Regions from separate parts of the Homo sapiens genome. Here region 1 is linked to region 2. The links come from fine-mapping of genetic effects on gene expression. A gene starts in region 2. The other region holds a variant in brackets. All regions are shown on one strand. Distances are between the middles of the regions.

The links. PIP is the estimated chance that this variant, and not a neighbour inherited with it, causes the effect.
Region 1: its variant is fine-mapped to the expression of PTOV1-AS2 in whole blood (TOPMed, PIP above 0.99).

Annotation. Positions count from the first base shown.
Region 1 is chr19:49,830,530-49,840,508 of GRCh38, forward strand. MED25 (mediator complex subunit 25) reads left to right here. Exons shown (of 18, transcript NM_030973.4): 8 at 1-69; 9 at 165-358; 10 at 804-932; 11 at 1,407-1,492; 12 at 1,571-1,628; 13 at 1,779-1,886; 14 at 4,457-4,648; 15 at 5,005-5,076; 16 at 5,198-5,416; 17 at 5,697-5,877; 18 at 6,318-6,450. The coding sequence ends at 6,415. MIR6800 (microRNA 6800) reads left to right here and starts at 1,489; the gene lies at 1,489-1,570. PTOV1-AS1 (PTOV1 antisense RNA 1) reads right to left here. Exons shown (of 4, transcript NR_040037.1): 4 at 8,116-9,547. RefSeq lists enhancers at 4,030-4,530, 4,531-5,031. The variant C/T (reference allele first, on the strand shown) is at 4,236.
Region 2 is chr19:49,853,547-49,863,525 of GRCh38, forward strand. It overlaps PTOV1-AS2 (PTOV1 antisense RNA 2), which reads right to left and starts at 5,743. Exons shown (of 5, transcript NR_110730.1): 1 at 5,660-5,743; 2 at 5,297-5,551; 3 at 5,008-5,080; 4 at 4,801-4,881; 5 at 2,919-3,526. It overlaps PTOV1 (PTOV1 extended AT-hook containing adaptor protein), which reads left to right. Exons shown (of 12, transcript NM_001394010.1): 2 at 860-997; 3 at 1,106-1,188; 4 at 1,285-1,342; 5 at 1,424-1,531; 6 at 3,429-3,584; 7 at 4,147-4,236; 8 at 4,358-4,431; 9 at 4,511-4,568; 10 at 5,003-5,107; 11 at 6,440-6,637; 12 at 6,722-7,196. The coding sequence ends at 6,733. PNKP (polynucleotide kinase 3'-phosphatase) reads right to left here. Exons shown (of 17, transcript NM_007254.4): 9 at 9,144-9,192; 10 at 8,992-9,062; 11 at 8,825-8,917; 12 at 8,639-8,735; 13 at 8,498-8,559; 14 at 8,226-8,335; 15 at 8,062-8,149; 16 at 7,903-7,964; 17 at 7,658-7,819. The coding sequence ends at 7,702. MIR4749 (microRNA 4749) reads left to right here and starts at 1,045; the gene lies at 1,045-1,105. RefSeq lists enhancers at 393-452, 2,637-2,696, 2,727-2,776.

The sequences.
Region 1 (9,979 bases), 23 kb before region 2:
CAGCTCAGGTGGCCGCGCAGAATGCAGTGGAGGCTGCCAAGAACCAGAAGGCTGGGCTGGGCCCTCGCTGTGAGTCCTGGAGTGAGGATGAAGGGCGGGCAGGGGCCAGGCAGGCCTCTCTCCACACACTTGTTCCCCACTTCTTCCCTTGGTCTCTCCCACAGTCTCGCCCATCACCCCTCTCCAACAAGCTGCTCCCGGAGTGGGTCCCCCCTTCAGCCAGGCCCCAGCTCCCCAACTACCCCCAGGACCCCCTGGCGCCCCCAAGCCACCACCTGCTTCCCAGCCCAGTCTGGTCTCCACTGTGGCCCCTGGCTCCGGCCTGGCTCCCACGGCACAGCCCGGGGCACCGTCCATGGTAGGTGCCTGCACGCCTCCTGCCCCTGCTCCTTCCTCCTGCTGTCCACAGCTAGGACAGTTAGAGGATGAGTCATTTGCCTTCCAGGGGGATGTGGCTCTCGTGGTTCTGGGGCTTTGGGGGCTCGTGGTGTGTGTGCTGCAGATGCCTGAGATGAGGGTCTGGGGACAGAGTGGGGAGGCTCATGGCTCCAGGAGGGTCAGGGCTGTTCCGAGAAACCCAAGGAATCCCTGGGTCTGGGAGTCCAGGGCATCGCACAGCTTACGAGTCCTCGAATCCTGCAAGGTCCAAGCATTTGGGGTCCTGCGGCTGGCCAAGTGCTGTTCTGGGGATGGAGGGGCAGAAGAAGGGATCTTTCCTCCTTCCTGGTTTGCCCTCACAGGATGGCCCCCGGAGGCTCCCGGCCTTCCCCATTCTCATGGCCCTCCTTCCTCCCCTCTGGCAGGCAGGCACTGTGGCCCCAGGAGGGGTGAGCGGCCCTTCCCCAGCCCAGCTGGGAGCCCCAGCCCTCGGTGGGCAGCAGTCAGTCTCCAATAAGCTTCTGGCCTGGAGCGGGGTCCTGGAGTGGCAAGAGGTGAGGGGCCTGAGGGTCCATTGGGCACTTGGGACTCCTGGGGCCGTGGGGCTGGGCATGTAGGACTCATGGGGCCAGATGCGTGGGGTCTGCAGTGCTGGGTTTGGAGGCATTCGTTGCGCTGGACCTGTGGGATGCGGGGCGAGGCCAGGAGCCCCATGGAGTGGTGGGACTTGCGGTACAGAGGAGAGTCCCCATGCAAAGAACCCAGAAAAGCCCAGGATTTGGGGCCCAGAGAAGAGCCCAGGCGATGTATCATCTGGGGCACAGTGGATGGTGGGATTTAGGGGCCGGGCACGTAGCTGTAACATTTGAGGAACTGAAGGCTTGCTGGTCTGGAGGAGGGGCCTGGGGCTCATGGGACTTAAACTGGGGAACATCCTGAGCTTTGGGGCTACCAGGGTAGGACATGAGGGCTCAAGGGGACTGAGGCTTATGGCCCTTTTTACTGACATGCTCTTTTTTCCCCCTCAGAAACCCAAACCTGCCTCAGTGGATGCCAACACCAAGCTGACGCGGTCACTGCCCTGCCAGGTCTACGTGAATCATGGCGAGAACCTGTAGGTGACAGTCAGGGGCGGGGTGTGGTGGGGCTGGGGCTGGCCCCCTCCTCACACCTCTCCTGGCATCGCCCCCAGGAAGACGGAGCAGTGGCCCCAGAAGCTGATCATGCAGCTCATCCCCCAGCAGCTGCTGGTGAGTGGCGGTGGAGGGCCAGCCCTGCTGCCGGGCAGTCCTCACCCTGCTGTCTCTTTCCTGTTCCCTGCCCCACCCCCACTCCCTGCCTCATGTCCCCGCCTCACTTGCCCACACCAGCATGCCAGCCGACTTCTGTGTCTCCCGCAGACCACCCTGGGCCCTTTGTTCCGGAACTCAAGGATGGTCCAGTTCCATTTCACCAACAAGGACCTGGAGTCTCTCAAAGGCCTCTACCGCATCATGGGCAACGGCTTCGTGAGTCCAGGGCATGGGGGGCCGAGGGGTGTTGACTCTTGTCCTGCTTTCTGCTGACCTTTGACGGGAATCCCAGAGTGCCTGGGCCCACGGAAGCCGTTTTTGATGGTTGGGTGCACTTCATGCCCTTAGGTTCCTCGCCTTTCTTCTAGAGCCGTGACTTTTATTATAATCATCGTATGCACCAGATTTGAGGGATATTCCACATTAAAAATGTGAGCTGGATGTGACAGGATCAGTTAGGAGGAAGCTGTTGATTCTGGCATGGCTTTATGGGATGTGTTCATTTCCTGTGGCTGTGGTAACACATTACCACAAGCAGAGGGGCTTAAAACAACAGAAACGTGTTCTATCCCAGTTCTGGAGGCCAGAAGCCCAAGGTCAGGGTGTCAGCAGGGCCACGCTCTCTCTAGAGGCTGGAGGGAAGGCCTCTTCGTTGCCTCTTCCGGCCGGTAACCCCAGGCTTCAGGTGGCATCGCTCCAGGGTCTTCCTCCATCCCGCAGCTGTCTTCCCTCTGTGTGTGTCTCCACATGGCATTCTCTCTGTATCTTTGTGTCTGTGCTTATAAGGACATCAGTAATTTTGGATTAGGCCCCATTTTCCTGACCTCATCTTACTACAATTGCAAAGACCCTCTTTCCAGATAGAGTCACCTTCACAGGTGCTGGGGACTGGAACCTCAGCTTAGCTTTCTGGTTTTGTTTTTTGAGACAGAGTTTCACTGTTGTCAGCCAGGCTGGAGTGCAGTGGTGCAATCTTGGCTCACAGCAACTTCCGTCTCCTGGGTTCAAGCGATTCTCCTGCCTCAGCCTCCCAAGTAGCTGGGATTACAGGCATGTGCCACTATGCCCAGCTAATTTCTGTATTTTTTAGTAGAGACAGGGTTTCACCATGTTGGCCAGGTTGGTCTCGAACTTCTGACCTCAAGTGATCTGCCTGCCTCGGCCTCCCAAAGTGCTAGGATTACCGGTGTGAGCCACCGCGCCCAGCCTCAGCATAGCTTTCTGGGAGTCACAGTTCACACTTTGTAACTCGGGGAAGGAGCAGATCAGTTACTTCCGTGCACCAGGCACTCCTGCAGGAAAGAGAACCTTAGGGGGATCACCTCACGAGACCCTCACAGAACCTTGTGAAGAAGGCATTCCTGAGAGTTAGTACTTCCGGCTGCAAATCACGTAGTTTCCCAAACACATAGATAATTGGGGGCACTCGGAAAAAATGTTCTCTTATGATTCTGTGGGTCACCTGGGCTCAGTGGGCCATCTCGCTTGGCGACTCTCACGGGGTTGCCATCAGATGGCAGCTGAGACTCTGGTCATCTGAAACCTTTACTGGGCTGGATGTTCAAAACAGCTCCTCACACAGCCCTGGCTGTTGGCTGGGGCTTGGCTAGGACCGGCCATCCCAGTGTCTGCACATGGCCTGTCCACGTGGCCACACTGTGGCAGCTGGGTTCTGAGAGGGCAGGCGTTGTAGGAGCAGGCATTTATATTTTGCACAGGACAGGACATCTAGAGGGGGCCAGCTATTGGGATTGGTTTCATAGGTCTGTGACATCAGGGACAGGGCCCTGTGGTTCTCTTGGCCTCTCCTTTATAGTCACAAGGTAGCTCTCATGGCTCCACGCATCCTGTGTGCTTTCATGAAGGAGGGGAAGGGGGCTGTGTGTTTCCCTTTCTTCAAGACAGCAGAAACTTTCTCAGATTCCAGAGCAGGCATTCCTTTCACCTCCTATCCCGGACCTAGGCCACTGGGCAGCCCCTAGTTGATGGGAGGCTGCTGGGAGCAGGTATCCGTGACTGTCTGGGGCTGGGACATGTTACAGCCCCAGACAGCATTGGGAATGCAGGGGAGGAGGACACTTGGATATGGAATAGGCAGCTAGCAGGGTCTGTCTCAGGCAGGAAACCGAGGCTCAGAGAAGTCAATTCACTTGGCCAAGGTCAGCCTCGCCTCCCTCAGGAGCCCCTGCCCTGAATGCTCCATGTGTTACCCCCCTGATGACCAGTGATGTTTCCTGGGTGCTTCCTGTGGGCTGAGCCTCAGGCAGGGCTCTTGCTGTGGATCAGACATCGCATAGTCACAGCGACCCTGTGATGTGGGAGCACTCCCCGTGGTGTACACTGGCCGGTGCTGAGGGCTGGAGGATCTCTTGGATACCCGGGGTCCGACCCACCGTTGATCACAGGCCTGTGGGTACCACGCTGTGCATCTAGGCCGCTCTCCCGGCCGTGACCCTCAGCCGCCCTCTGAGGAGGCCGCCGTGGCATTTTATGCCCAAGAAACTGGGTCCATGAGGAGCAGGTGGTGGCTGAAGGTTGAAGAGCTGGGCTCCAGCACTTTCTCTC[C/T]GCTTTCCCTCTCAGTGGGCAGCTGGAACCCTAGCTTGCCCTGAGCGCCTCAGTTTCTGTCTCCAGAGCAACCCATAGCACACCTGTTCTCCTTAACCTTCTATAGCAGAAACCTCACCTCACCTTGCCTGTGGGGCCTCTAGAGCCTTCTGGAATGGGGAGGGGGTCAGGGCTGCCTCTTTCAGGGCCTGAATGGTTCTGAAGAGCTGTTGTCCACCCAGGCGGGCTGCGTGCACTTCCCCCACACGGCGCCCTGTGAGGTGCGCGTGCTCATGCTCCTGTACTCGTCCAAGAAGAAGATCTTCATGGGCCTCATCCCCTACGACCAGAGCGGCTTCGTCAACGGCATCCGGCAGGTCATCACCAACCACAAGCAGGTCCAGCAGCAGAAGCTGGAGCAGCAGCAGCGAGGAGTGAGTGTTGACAGTCCCCAAACCAGCACTCCGACCCCCTCCTGCCCGGGCCCCACATGGCCCCCTGGGGTCTCCAGGACCAAGATGCCCACCCTTCTCCCAATATGTGGTGCCTCCAAGCTAAGTCCCACTCAGATTTTCTTGCAGTCTCTCTCCTTTTTCAGCATCCACATCAAAGCCCTGACACAGCTTCCTCCTGGAGACCTTGGAGTGTACGGCATCCCTCCCAGACCACTCACCCCCAAAGAGAATGTCCCCATCTCCTTACTAGTTCCCCTCAGGGCACAGGCCCTCCCGCCTCAGATTCAGGATGCCACCACCCTCAGTTACTGACCTGCCCCTCTCTCCCCGTGCAGATGGGGGGACAGCAGGCACCCCCAGGGCTGGGGCCCATTCTGGAGGACCAAGCCAGGCCCTCACAGAATCTGGTGAGGACAGGGCTGGCGGGGTCGGGGCTGGGTTGGGGAGGCCCCAAGGCTGCGCTCTGTGCCTGCAGAAGGGGCGTGAGGCCCTGCCCATCTCCCTCACCCCTGTGTCTCTTCCCACCAGCTCCAGCTCCGCCCACCGCAGCCCCAGCCTCAGGGTACCGTAGGGGCCTCTGGGGCCACGGGGCAGCCCCAGCCCCAAGGTACTGCCCAGCCCCCGCCAGGTGCCCCTCAAGGCCCTCCTGGAGCAGCTTCTGGCCCACCCCCTCCTGGACCCATCCTTCGGCCCCAGAACCCTGGGGCCAACCCTCAGCTGCGAAGCCTCCTCCTCAACCCACCACCGGTGAGATGTTGGGGTGGGGTAGCGAGAGTTCCAGATCCTGGCCCTGGTGGTTCTGGTCCTGTTGTCTGGGAGGAGGGAGGTTGACTGTGGTCAGTGGGTGTGAATGGGGACCCGCCCAGGGCTTTAGGCAGAAGGCAGACCGCCTCCTCTCCGTCCATCCCCCACCTTTGAAGAAAAACTTCCCCTCACCACTAGCTGATTCCATCTCTGAGCAGTGTCTGTGTTGAGAGGTGGGGAGTCTCTACCAGGAGCCTCTGAGCCACTCTCTGTGTTCTCCCAGCCGCAGACTGGGGTGCCCCCACCCCAGGCCTCCCTCCACCACCTCCAGCCACCAGGGGCTCCTGCGCTGCTGCCTCCGCCGCACCAGGGCCTGGGGCAGCCCCAGTTGGGGCCCCCACTCCTGCATCCACCACCTGCCCAGTCCTGGCCCGCACAACTTCCCCCTCGGGCTCCACTGCCAGGTAAGGGGACCCGGGGGAGGGCAGAGGTCTGGACTGAGTGTCCCAGCAGCTCCTGGGCTAGAGCACCAAGACCGAGTGCTCCTGGGAAGTAAAGACATAGGATCCAAGAATGAGGGTTCCCCCATGGCCTTTGCGGAGCTCTGAGGGCTCCGGGAAAGTACAGCCCATGGGTCCAAGGACCTAGTGGGTTAAGAGCGTTTCCCATGATCCTCCTGTGTGTGCTCCTGGGATTGCTGGGAAATGTGGTCTTAGGGCCAGAGAAGTAGTTTTGGAGAAGGGCCCCCAAAGGCTCATGGGAAACAGCATATTTGTAACTAGATGGGGCCAGAAGGTGCTTCTGTTGGGTCCCCCAAGGGCTGCCTAGAAAACTTAGTGCCTCTGGGCCCTCCTGGGCCCAAGGGCCTACTGGGAGATGCAGTCCCTTCCCCACTGCCCCTCAGGTCAGATGCTGCTGAGCGGGGGTCCCCGGGGCCCGGTCCCCCAGCCGGGCCTGCAGCCCAGCGTCATGGAGGACGACATCCTCATGGATCTCATCTGAATCCCCAACACCCAATAAAGTTCCTTTTTAACACACGCCCCGGCTCCCGTCACTGACATCCCTCAGGACTGGGCAGGAGGAAACCCCAGGGGGCATCTCTGTCCTTGTTCTCACTTCAGCAGACATCCCTGGGGCCCTGGGTGAATGACGCTGGGGCCTCCGTGGTGAGTCACAGGCAGTCTGGTGCAACCTGATTCGTGGGAGATGCAGGGACAGGCAGGCAGCGCTCAGGACTCAAGCTCTCATGGAGGTGGCAGGGGCACCATGGGAGCCTGGAAGAGGCATCTGACCCAGCCCCAGCTCCTCAGAGTCTTGAAAGAGAATCAGCCGTCAGGCTGGGAGGGAAGGAGGTGAGGGGTGATCTGGGTGCAGAGGACAACAGAAACTTTGAATACTCAAAGGCAGGAGGAAGCCTGAGACATTGAGAGGAGCAAGTTGATGGATGCTTTTGGAGCATGAGCATGTAGGGAGCTAGAGAGATGGGCAGGTGCAGAGTTTGAGGAGCTCGGATTCCAAACTGAGCAGCCCATGGTTTGTCCTGGGGACACAGGAGAACCAGGAGGCTTTGAGCAGTGGGGCGGGCCTAGGCCAGCTCTGGATGTCAGAAAGACCCCTCTCAGCTGTAGAGCGTGATGAGGCCAGACAGGAGGCCAGGAAAGGTGAGGCTGGGTGGTGGCGGTGTCGGGGGCTGGGGTAGAGGTTCGCTCCCGGGGGCCAGGCCTACGTGATGGTAGGTGGTGGGGCTCCTGGGAGAAGGAGCTGGTAGTAAGTGCAGGTGGTCCAAGGGACATCCAGGTGACAGGTGCCATGTTGGGAGCTCAGGACGTGTCCTTAGGGGACAGTGTATGTTTGGCAGTTCAAGCCACAGAAGCAGACAAGATCGCACATGGAGAGAGGGCAGTCCCTGGGTCCATGTCAGAGACTGACCTTCCAGGGCTGTGGATGGGGAAGACGGTGGGTCTGTCCCCAGGATAGAATACCCAGCAGGGAACAGGTTTGGGACGTGGCAAGGTGAGGGACCTGAAGGATGTCCTCAGAGACGTCCCGAGGGCAGGGGGATCCAGACAGGCTTGGAGCGCAGGGTGGTCTCTCCTGGAGGTGGTGAGTGAGTTGTCTGTTGTTGGACTCTGGACCAGTGTTGCTGAGAGCGCGGTCCATGCCTGGACCACCAGCATCCACATCATTTTGCATGCTGGTTAACGTACAGATTCACGGGCCCCACCCCAGGAGAGAGATTGCAATCTGGTGGCCTATGGGCCATCGTGCGGATGAGTTTTGTTTGGCCTTCCCTGTGTTAGCATATGTGGCATTTTTTTCTTACGAGTTAGTTGTAAAAATCAGGTTAATTCACACACACACACGCACACACACAAAATCTGCAGTCTTGGCTTCTTTTGACAAGTCAGAAGAATTGGCACCCCTGGGCCCGCCCTTCTGCCTGGCAACAATGGGCTGGAGCTGCCCCTCTCCATGGGGCGTGTGCTTTCTGGTTCGCCACAGTCCCCACCACTCCCTCTTGGCTTCCCTGTGAGGCAGAGAGTCACTGCCTTTGTCACGGGGTTTGCACTGTGGTTGTTCTGTGGTAGCATTCAGAGGAAAGTGAAATCTTTCTTGTACCCATGTCTCTATCACAAGCGGCAAAACGAAAGAGAGAAGGAGAGGGCCGTGTGTTTCGAGAAAAATGGGAGCGAGCCTATTTCTTTGTGGAAGTGAAGAGCATGCCTATGTGTTTAATATGCAAACAAATCGTGTCTGTGTTGAAAGAATACAACCTGAAACGCCACTATGAATCAAAGCATAGTAAGAGCTACGACCAGTACACAGAACAGACTCGAGATGCCATCCTCAACGAACTGAAAAAGGGACTCAAATGTCAATAGGGTTTGTTTTGAAAAGCGAATTAACAGAAGTGGCGCGGCAGTGGTACGCCGTTCCGGAATCACGTGAGAAGAATGACCTGGGCATTCAGAGCTACAGCAGATGGCAAGTTTATAAAGGAGCAGAGTGACGTGTCCTGCACAGAAACACATGACTGTTGAGACCGTTATTTAAGTCTAACGGGCATTTGCGTTGCACAGTGAGTTGGAGATAACTCGGGGGATTTACAAGTCCAGTTGCTTGAAAGAGTCAAATTGATTGTGGCCTTTTCTTTCGCTGCTCATAAACTATTACCACCCAGTTAGCTTTATTTATTTGTGGTGTTAAGAATCTTGATGTGACCGAAGAAGTCTGTGGCATGGTGCCAAGGCAGGCCCAACACTGGGAAAGGACTAATTTTTTTTGTATATTGAGAGAAAAGTTTCACATAGACTGGCCAGAGTTCCGAAGCACAACTACAGACAGCGTCATGACAGGGGGACTTGGCAGGACACCTTGATCCAAGGCGACAGCATTTGGCAAGGACACGGAAGTTGGGTCGTTGCATCCATCATCAGGAGTTGACTTGTTCTGAGCAACTGAACAGAACACACCGCGATGCTCTCGACACTTCCGCTCCTGGACTTCAGTCACGAGTGAGTTGATGGTGACTTGACCTGAGAGATTTCACAGAAGCTCTGTGACTTGGTTGTGGAAGAAATCTGAACTGTTCAAGTTAACCAACTTGGTTCATTTTAAATCAGGCAAAAGCCACAGTGGGTTCCCCTGAGAAGGTTAGTCAAAGACTTCTGGTCAAGGTTATGACCGTTCTGAACACTGAATATTTCTCCGCAAGGATGTCCACAAACAGCTACTTGAATGTATGATGGTGTATGCTTGGTCCTGGGGAATCCACCGGCAAGGAAAAAAAACCTTTACTCTTTCCTGTGCTGCAGTCGGCTTTCAGAAATGAAAGAGGTGGCCCGGACTGTATTCACCTACGTCCTGGGGTTGAAGACCAAATTCCCCCAAAGGCTCTCGGAATCCAGACTCATGAGAAGGAACAGACATTGTCCAGTTTGCCTTTGTTGGCAGATGTTTCTTGTGTGAATGCAGACCATAAATAGTAATTGAACTACAGTGCAATACGGCGCTGGTTCCTAAATACAAGTCTGTGTGAAGATGGTGAGATTCTACAACTATCTCCAGTAGTTGTCCTGAATATCTGTGTTTGGGAGTACCCACGCTTGTGAACAGCTGTTTTCCGTTACGAACCTGAATCAAATTAAACATCGTTCCCAGTTGAAGGATTCAAGGCTGAATTCTAAACTGCCCGTCCCCACCGTGCCACCCGAGGCCTGACACTGACATCTCGGTGTGGAAGGGAAGACGCCAGCCTTTTGGCTTCAACTCAAAGGCGCAAAAAGAATTATGAAAGAGAAAATTTTAATAATTAAATATTTCTATTTTTCAATTTGTATTTTTTCAATTTTGAATTTAAAAATATAAACTCCAGTAACATCCATGTTTGTATTATGTTCCATGCATTCACCATAGTTGAGTAAAGATCCGATTTGATGATATTTCTGGCCGTCGACTTTTCTTATACCTGGCTAGTTCACTCATTTATGTGACCCGCCTGGCCCCTGTAGGCATGTGAGTTTCCGATCCCTGCCCTGGAACTGTTGGATCCAGTGGGGGGAGGGC
Region 2 (9,979 bases):
AGCGAGGTTGCAGTGAGCTGAGATCGCACCACTGCACTCCAGTCTGGGAAATGAGTGAAACTCTGTCTCAAAAAAAAAATAGTAATAAAAATAGTGGGGAGAGTGCCTGTGAGTAGCATTTGTGGCGTTGCTTGGCTTTATTGCTAGAACTTTCTCTTGGTGTTCTACATGTTTTGGTCTGTGAGACCCCTCTGGGGGTGGTGTCCCAGCTGTCTTCCAAATGTTTCCCCCTTTTCCTCGCTGTCTTTCTCCTGGATGGTTTAGTCCCCTCTGTGTTTCTTGTCATCTCCTTCCTGCCTCCCCCCGGGGTCAGACTTATAAGGCCAGAGAGGTGGGCACTGGCCTGAGCCAGAGGAAGGAATTGAACTTTGGGATGACAGGGAGCTTTAGGAGAGTTTCAGCCTGGGAAAGACAGGGCAAGCTGGTGTGTGGGACAGACACAGCGCAAGCCGGCTTGTGCCTGTGGAGGCTGCAAGGAAGCCCTGGGCCCAGCCTGGGGCACGGGGAAAGCCCCCTACAGCTGGCTTCTAACTTGGGTCTCAAGAATCGATCAGGCGCACAGCTGGGGCAAAGGCTGGAGGTGGGGCTGGCTGAAGGCTTCAGGACTCTGCTGGGCCAGTGTCAAGGTGACAGCAGGCTCTGGGAAGGAAGGGTCCTGAGGGTGGGCAGCGGGAAAGGACATGAGGACCAGCGTGTGGGGGTCCTGAGGGGTGAGCAGAGGGTTTGGACATGGCCCCGTGGGCTTCCAGCAGGGGATTTGGGGCTGAATATTGGGACGTCCCCTCTGGGGTGTGTGGGGACTGCCTGTCCTTGCAGGCCCCGGCCTCAGTTTTCCCACCTATCCCCCACTCCATTGCAGGAAGGTGCTCGGGTCTTCGGGGCACTGGGTCCCATCGGTCCCTCCTCACCTGGGCTCACCCTCGGGGGTCTGGCCGTGAGCGAGCACCGGCTCAGCAACAAGCTGCTGGCTTGGAGCGGCGTCCTCGAGTGGCAGGAGGTGAGTCTCTGTGGGGCTGCGGCTGGCCTCCAGGGTCTTGTCTTGTCCCTGCGGGGACAGGCCAGGGCATCTAGGCTGTGCACAGTGACGCCCCTCCTGCCCCCACAGAAGCGCAGACCCTACTCTGACTCCACTGCAAAGCTGAAGCGGACCCTGCCCTGCCAAGCCTACGTGAACCAAGGCGAGAACCTGTGAGTGCCGGGGCGTGGCAGCCAGGGCGGTGGCAGGGGCAGTGGCTGTGGCCGTGGGGATCAGGGCAGCCCTTTCTGACCAGCTCCTTCCCATAGGGAGACCGACCAGTGGCCGCAGAAGCTGATCATGCAGCTGATCCCTCAGCAGCTGCTGGTGAGACCCGCCCCTCCCACCCCATCCACTCTGAGCACCCCCATGCCTGGCTGACCCAGCTGTCTGTCCTGTCGCCCCCAGACCACCCTGGGCCCCCTGTTCCGGAACTCCCAGTTGGCACAGTTCCACTTCACCAACAGAGACTGCGACTCGCTCAAGGGGCTCTGCCGCATCATGGGCAACGGCTTCGTGAGTGGGGCGGGCTCCCTTGTAGCACTGTGGTGACAAGTACAGCTGGAGGCAGCGCTCTGCTCACACAGTCCAGGCGGGGGTCGGGGGGTCTCCCCTGGGGCCGAGGGTAGCCCTCGTGGCCTCTCGGACCCCATCTGGAAATGACTGACTCCAGGCACCCTCCGTAGAGCACAGGGTGAAGGAACTCAGCCTGAGAGGCCTCCAGTTTCTGCATCTGTGCCCAGCTTCGAGGTGGCCCTGGGGGCGTGAGTGCAGGGAGGGACTGGGGCCAGCCCTGTTGGGGCCCAGGAGCCTGTCGGGGACACATAGCGTATGGCAGGGACCTGGTAAATGGGTGTGCTAGGCACAAGAGCCAGCCAGGAGGGAGTGGCACGTTGGGGCTTGGTATTCTGGTCTGTAAAATGGGCTAACCTCCCCGAGTGGCCTGAGCTGGCCGTGAGGGAGCAGAGCTGAGGGTGCTGAAGCAGGCGCGGTGAGTAGGTCCTCAGGCCTGGCTCCAAGGGGACCCAGGTATCCAGCCAGTGGCTGTGCAGGGACTGAGTGGGGCAGGCGCGGCCATGACCTGGACCCGGGGGGCTGCCAAGGGATCTGAGAGCGGCTTCCGCAGCACTCCAGGGTTGGGCTGGTTGAGGGGTAGAGATGACATTTTCTGAGGTAGGGAGGACAGGGGAGCCGTGCTTCCTAGGGCCACCGGGAGGCTGGAGGGAGGGAATTTGTGTAAAGCGCTTGAGATGGTGACTTTAGTACCTAGTGAGTGCTGGGTGAACCCAGCTGGTGAGGCTGTTCAGGTGACTGAGATTCTGGCGCAGGGCAGGTCAGAAAGGGGGCTTGGGCTGTGAAAGATGGCAGGTGCTGGAGAGGAGGCAGGGGTGGGGTGGGAGCGAGTTGTCTGCCCAGAGGACCTGGCTCTGGGACATTCCCAGTCCCTGTTCCCTGTTGGGACAGTCTGCCTCTACCCGTCCCAGCTGCCGTTGAGCGCCCTGGGTTCCGCTAGGGCCTCCCTTCTCCCTCAGGAGACCAGGGGCAGACCAGGGCTTGTGCCTGGCATGAGGTCTCTTAAGTGACCCGTTCCCCCTTCACCCAGCACCGTTTGTTGAGGGCCTGCCATATCTGGGCCCCGAGTACCCAGTCTGTAGGGAAAGTGGACATCCATACTCACCCCCCAGGCATGGCCCTGGGAGGCTGACTGTGCATGGCTCCAGGGAGGCCAGGGACAGGGCCCTGAGCGGGTGATCCCTGGGCTGGACACCAAGGTTGAGAAGTTAGGCCGGCAGCGTGGAGGGGACAGCACTGTGGGGGTGGCCCGGTGTGGGGAGGGGACATGGGGTTTTGGGACGGTCACACCACTTCATCTAGACACCACAGCCAGGCACATCTGTCAGGCTTAGTTCTCCCATGCGCCATCCTCAAGAGGCACCAGCACTTTATCTGTTGAGCCTTTATGTGGCACCAACTGTGTGCACTATTACCCGGTTTTACAGATGATGGAGGCCCAGAAGCAGGAGGTGGCTGGTGTTAGGTCACACAGCTAGGAGGCAGCAGAACGGTGGGGCGCTGCCTGTGCTCTTAACCCCCAGGCCAAGTCACCCCATCAGGCAGTCAGGAGGGCTGGCGGCAGGGGGTGATGTGGGTGGGAGGTAGTGCCTTCTTGGCATTCTCACCGCAGCCTGGGTGCCGGGTGCCACTCTGACCTCAGCCATGGCAGGGTCGGGGGATGCCGATGGGCGCTGCACGGGCTCTCAGAGGCCCCTCACCTATGGCCATGGCCTTGACTGTGGGGGCCTCTGTCCACCGATGATCTCCCTTCATCCCCTACAGGTGGGGCGGTCCAGGGTGGTGGGGGCACAGTGGCCCCGGGCAGTGACCACAGGGTCCTGACCCGCGGCCCCCGCAGGCGGGCTGCATGCTGTTCCCCCACATCTCCCCCTGTGAGGTGCGCGTGCTCATGCTCCTGTACTCGTCCAAGAAGAAGATCTTCATGGGCCTCATCCCCTACGACCAGAGCGGCTTCGTCAGTGCCATCCGGCAGGTCATCACCACCCGCAAGCAGGTGTGCCAGCCAAGCACAGCCCCTCTGGGGACAGAGGGGGATTAGACCCCACTGCCCTGGTTGGGCAGCCAGACTTGGTGTGGGCGGAGTGTGATGCGATGGCTGGAGCAAGGAGCTGCAGGGGAGCCCGGAGGATGCCGGGCGGGTTCCCACCAGGGCTCCATGGAAAAGCGGCCACTGGGCGGCTCTGCAGGGCTGGAGGGTGGGTCTTGGCGCGGCGGCAGGGAAGCCAGCGGAGCGGGGAGCTGGGCAGGGGTTGGGATCGTCCTGCGGCTGGAAGGCCCTGCCTGGTAACCACGTGTCCTGGTCATGCCTTGCCAGTTGAGGCAGACTCTGCAGGTCCTGTGCACCAGGTGAGGGCCGGGACCTGTCTCAGGCCACTGGGGAGCCATGGGGGGCTGTGAGCAGATGAGGGGCAGGGCCTGTTCCCCTGGGACTAGAGAATGGACCCAGCTGGGGCTAACAGGCCAAGGCTCGGAGGGAGGGATGGCAGGCCCCAGGACAGACAGACAGGTTTCCCAGGAGCCTGGGCCCCTCTTCCCACCCCGTTCCCTTCCAACAGGCAGTGGGACCTGGTGGTGTCAACTCAGGCCCAGTCCAGATCGTCAACAACAAGTTTCTGGCATGGAGTGGTGTCATGGAGTGGCAGGAGGTGAGCACTCGGCAGCCCAGGGACTTGGGACCCCCAGATCCTCACGGACTGTGGCTGGGAGGGGACACTGGCATTGGGGGTCTCCAGCCCTGAGGGCTCCTCTTTGCCTCTCCCCCAAAAGCCCAGGCCTGAGCCCAACAGTCGGTCCAAGAGGTGGCTGCCATCCCACGTCTACGTGAACCAGGGGGAGATCCTGTGAGTGCTGGGCTGGGGGGTGGAGGCAGCATCCAGGGGAGCTGGGGCTTCCTGACCCTCGTCCCTTTGTGCCCCACAGGAGGACCGAGCAGTGGCCAAGGAAGCTGTACATGCAGCTCATCCCGCAGCAGCTGCTGGTGAGGGGCTGGGGCCGGGTGCTGGAGCCTGCACGCAGTAGCTCTTCCAGAGGGCGGGGCTGGGGGCAAGAGCGCCTCCCCAGGTGGCCTGAGCTGGCTGTGAGGGAGCGGAGCTGAGGGTGCTGAAGCAGGTGTGGTGGGTAGCTCCTCAGGCTTGGCTTCAAGGGGTCCCAGGCAGCCAGCTGGTGGCTGTGCAGGGACTGAGCGGGGCAGGGGCAGCCACGACCTGCACCTGGGGGGCTGCCAAGGGATCTGAGAGCGGCTTCCACAGCACTCCAGGGTTGGGCTGGTTGAGCGGTGGAGATGACGTTTCCTGAGGTAGGGAGGACAGGGGAGTCTCAGTTTGGTCCTGGGCCCGGGGGACTCAGCGGGCTGGGAGCCGGGAGGCCGTGGTGGGAGAAGCCAGAGCTGGGGGTCCCCTCGCTTCCCCGCAGACCACCCTAGTGCCGCTGTTCCGGAACTCGCGCCTGGTCCAGTTCCACTTCACCAAGGACCTGGAGACACTGAAGAGCCTGTGCCGGATCATGGACAATGGCTTCGTGAGTGGTGCCAGCAGACGCAGGGGAGGGGCCGGCCAGGGCAGAGCGAGCCCGGACCGCTCACGGGGGCGGACATGGGAGAGGAACAGAGCACCATGTCCCAGACCAGCTGGGGAGAGAGGGTGGCTAGTGTGGGCGTGACTTCTGGGGGCTCTGTGCTGTCCCCACGGCACTGGATGGGGCACTGACCCTGGTTCTGCGGGGGCCTGCTCCTCCTCTGCCACATCAGGGCTGACTCAGCACCAACTCCGCGCTCTCCACTCCTCAGGGACAGGCGCCCTTGTCACTCCTGGTTTCCCGGGAGCTTGTGCCACATCCCAAAGGCCCATTGCTGGGCAGGGAGGGCTGTCTGCCCCCAGCAAGGTCCCAGAATATTTGGCGATTGTCTTATCTGGGGGAGGCTCAGCTGACTCCTCTTCTCTCTCTCGGGCTCAGTTTCTCCATCTGTGAGGTGGAGAAGGTTGGACTTTGGTGTTTCTGAGCCCTCCCCCCGATGTCCACCTTCCAGCTGGGCCATACTTGGGTAATATCCCGAAACTACCTTAAAATTACCTTCGACTCAGTCTGAGTAAACTGTCCACGAAGCTGTTCGTGGGTGGGGGGGGCCTGGGTGTAGGTGCTTTTACATGAAAGCAATTTCAAGCATTCCCTCAGGGGCCGGGTGCGGTGGCTCACGCCTGCAATCCCAGCACTTTGGGAGGCCGAGGCGGGTGGATCACCTGAGGTCAGGAGTTTGAGACCAGCCTGGCCAACATGGTGAAACCCCGTCTCTACTAAAAATACAAAAATTAGCCAGGCATGATGGCCACTCAGGAGGCTGAGTCACAAGAATGGCTTGAACCCGGGAGGCAGAGGTTGCAGTGAGCTGAGATCATGCCATTGTACTCCAGCCTGGGCGACAAGAGCGAAACTCAGTCTCAAAAAAAAAAAAAAAGTTTCCTCAAGGAAACCCAGAAAGGCTCCATGTACCTCAGCCCTTGCTTGTGCTGGGCCGGCCGCTGCAGATCCCTCGGGCTCCTGAGTTGAAGCCATGGCCGGTTGGCTCAGGTGGCTGTGGTGAGGTGGCCCCAGACACAGCCTGGCCTGCCCAGGAGCTCTGAAATGCAGGTTCTTGGGCCCTTCCCGACAGAGCCTGTTGGCCTTTGGCCCACCCATTGCTCTTGGCCACCGTGTCATCCCAATAAGGGGGCCCACCTCCAGGGTGGGTGGGGGGTGTGAGGACAGAGCAGTTAGGCTGTGCCTGGCTCATGGAGCCCACGGCATGATGCCGTGGTTGGAGGGATGCTGGTCCCTGTGGTGCTGTCTGGTGACACCACGCCCTGTGCCTGCCAGGCCGGCTGCGTGCACTTTTCCTACAAAGCATCGTGTGAGATCCGCGTGCTTATGCTCCTGTACTCTTCAGAGAAGAAAATCTTCATTGGCCTCATCCCCCATGACCAGGGCAACTTTGTCAACGGCATCCGGCGTGTCATTGCCAACCAGCAGCAGGTCCTGCAGCGGAACCTGGAGCAGGAGCAACAGCAACGAGGGGTGAGGTGGCCGGCCTCCAGGGCTGCTCAGTCTCCCTCCACCCCCGCTGCCTGCTCACCACTGGCCTCTGATTTCTCGCCGTAGATGGGGGGGTAGTGGTTACCCCGGGCTGGGCCCCTCCAGGAGTCACAGATGAGGCCCCCGCAGAGACTGGTGAGTGGTGACCCTGTCATGTACAGGAGGGACCCTGGGGCATGTGGGGGGGGTGGGGTTGGGAAAGAAGCAGGGCGACCTTGGCCTTGGGGAGAGCAGAGCAGAGGGAGAGGCAGCAGTCCCAGCGGTCCTAGGCTGTCGGGAAACTGCAGCCCAGCCTCAGGGCCATGGGAGGTGGTATCCAGGCCTGGGTGGGGCCAGGCCTCTGCTCACAGGGATGTGGGGTCAGTGCTTGGGAGCCTGTGGCCAGCAGCCCCCACTGCACCCCTGCCCCCAGGTGACACGCTTCTGAGCAGGGGCCCCTGGGGACTTCAACTGCCCAGCAACATGGAGGATGGTGTCCTGAGGCCTCCAAGGACGGTCCCCACCCCTCTACGTTTCCCCAATAAAGCCTTTTAAAAACCTGCCTGCCTTCTCTGCTCACTGCCCGATGCCTTGCAGCCCCCTAGCTCTAAGGTGGCCCAGCAGGCTGGACAGCCCGGGAACTCACTGGGTCTGGCTCTCGGCTGTCCACACCCTCTTCCCCCCCGAATCTCCAGACCCGCAGGCCTTGGGTTCAAGTTCAGTGTCACAGAACCTGAGCTGGATTTTGTCCTCAGGGGTCACACCTGGCCTTGAGCCAGCCCCTCGGTTGAGGCTCGTGGGCTCACCAGCTGGCTCTCGGGGGGCCACACAGCGCCCTCCCTGTGTGTTCCCCGGCTAATGTCTAAAGTGCTCATGCCAGGTCCCAGCTGGACTCCCCTCGGTAGGGCCCCACCTTTTGTTACCTGAAAATGTCCTTAAAGCCTCCTCCATGTAAGAAACTGGCAGGCCTGGAGCCCCTCCCCCGTGGGGACCACCCTCCTTCCAGCAAAATGCCGGCCAAGCTCAAGGAGAAACAGCGTTTATTGTGGAGGGGAGCTGGGCGGGGCTCAGCCCTCGGAGAACTGGCAGTACAGCCGCCCCAGCCTCGGCTCCACCCATAGCCGGAACGGGATCTCCAGGATGGCAGAGAAGCCTTCAGCCAGCGTTGGGGCCTCGAACTGCTTCCTGGCAGTGGTGGGAACAGTGAGGGACAGCCTGGATCATGTGGCCCAGCCAGTGCCCCTGCCCCCTGCTATCCCCAACAGTACCTGTAGCCATACATGACCATGTCTGACACGGGGATATGAGAGGAGTCCGTCATCTCTCGAAACTGTGGGGAACATCAGAGGGGCGGCAGGCCCAGGGGTCAGGGGAGGAGGGGGGTCAGGGGGTGCAGCCCGGGGGGTGTCCGGGCTGAGCGGGCTCACCCGGTTGTTGTGGCGCGCCTGCTCCAGAGTGGCGGTGAAGAGGAAGCAGCGGCAGGGGACGCCCGCGGCTCGGGCACACTGGACGTACCTGTGGGGGAAGGAGCTGGATGTGCAGGCCCCGCCCACCCCGCCGCAGGCCACCTACGGCCCCGCGGTCACGCTACCTGGCGCGGCTCGCGGCGTCTGGGTTTGTGTTGTCGATGGCGACCCGTTTCCCTTGCTTCAGGGCTGTCTCACACGTGGTCACACAGCGCTGCCAGGAGCCTAGCGTGTCCTGGGGACACGAGAGGTCACAAACAGATCGGCAGACCCAGGGGGAGAGAAGACCCCGAGCGGGGACGGGGAGGCAATGATGGAGGAAAGCCGCCCCAAACCAGTTGAGAGGTGGAGATGGGAACTTTATAATAGATTTGGGGCGGCAAAAGCCTGGTCATACCCTGTTCACGTGGACATATCCGGCCGACACGAGGTGCTTCTTGAGAAAGGTGGACTTCCCGGCTGTGTGGGGGGCAGTGTCGGTGGGTGGCCTAGGACCCAGGCGGGGCTCAGGGCACGCGCACAGGAACAGGACACTTACCCCCAGGGAATCCCACTGCGACAACCACCTCCGGGCTGGCGCTCAGGAGGGCCCTGGACTCGGGGAGGCAGAGAGGCCCTGAGCGGGAGACAGTCCTCTGCGAGGGGCGGGGGACACGCGTGAGATGCCGTCCCCATCCCCGGGAGCCCTCCCATCCCCACCCCCACCCCCGCCCCAGGGCCTCACCGGATCAAAGGCTGGGAGCTCGAAGCCGGCTGCTGGCCACTTGAGAAAGAACTCCTCAGGCGTGGCGAAGGGCAGGCCAAGGTTGAGGGCAAACTAGGGGTTGAGGACGAACATCAGACACAGGCCAGGGTCGGGCTCGGGCGCGGGGCAGGGGGCAGGGGCCTCACCAGGCGATCGGCGCAGGAGAAGTCTTTCTTCTTCCGCCCCGGGGCCCAGTTGGCCGGGCGTCCGGCTGCGTCTGGAACACACGGGACACCCCGTTCCCACCAGCTCGGAGGGAGGCGTCCCAGCCCACCCTCAGCAGCCTCCAGGCCCTTACCTCCCACAAAGATGCTGTCCCCGATGGATATGGGCGTGCCGTCGTTGGCCTACGGGAGACGGTAGTGAGGAGGCCCTTCCCACAAATGTCCCCCCGCAGCGGTAGCGGGTCCCTGGGGCTGCTTCGCCTGGTCTGTGCCCCACATCAGGAATCATCCCCCGACCTTTCATGTCCTCACTCTCCAGCCACTTTGCACCGTGCTCCTGGCCCCCTCCCCCCTCCGTGGTCTCTCCACACAGCCCCCTCCCTCCAGGTCTCCCGACTTCACCTCCTCCCGTTCCCCACGCGGCCACCGGAGGGCACCCACCCTGCTACAGCTCCAGCCTCCGGCGTGCCGGCGCCTCCCAGGTTCCCCCTCCCTCAGGGCAAAAGCGGGGCCCTCCCTGTGGCCCTGCCCTCTCCCCTCCCTCGCTTAGAGCCAGCCGCATGGGCCTCGCTGTCCCTAACTAGCCCAGGCTAGGGACTGCCTCAGGGCCTTTGCACTTGCTGTCACTCCCACAAGGGGGGGGACCGCTTTCCCCAGGTGTCCACCTGGCTCCCTCCTTTCCCTGCCTTAGGCCTTTTCCTCTGATGTCACCTCCTCAGAGGCCATCCCTGCCCACCACGGGTGATGCCTGCTTTCTCCAGCTCCCTCCCTCCTGCTGTTTTACACGCCAGTCTGCCCATCCGCCTAGAGTCACCGCCCTCGCCGTGAGGGCCCTGCTGGAGCAGGCCGTCCCGCTCACTGATACCTTCAGCTCAAGAATGCGCTAAACTTCAGAACAAATGCACACACAAACGAATGAACGAAGGAATGAACAGCTTCCCTACTACTCTGATGTAGAAAGTCTGAAAGC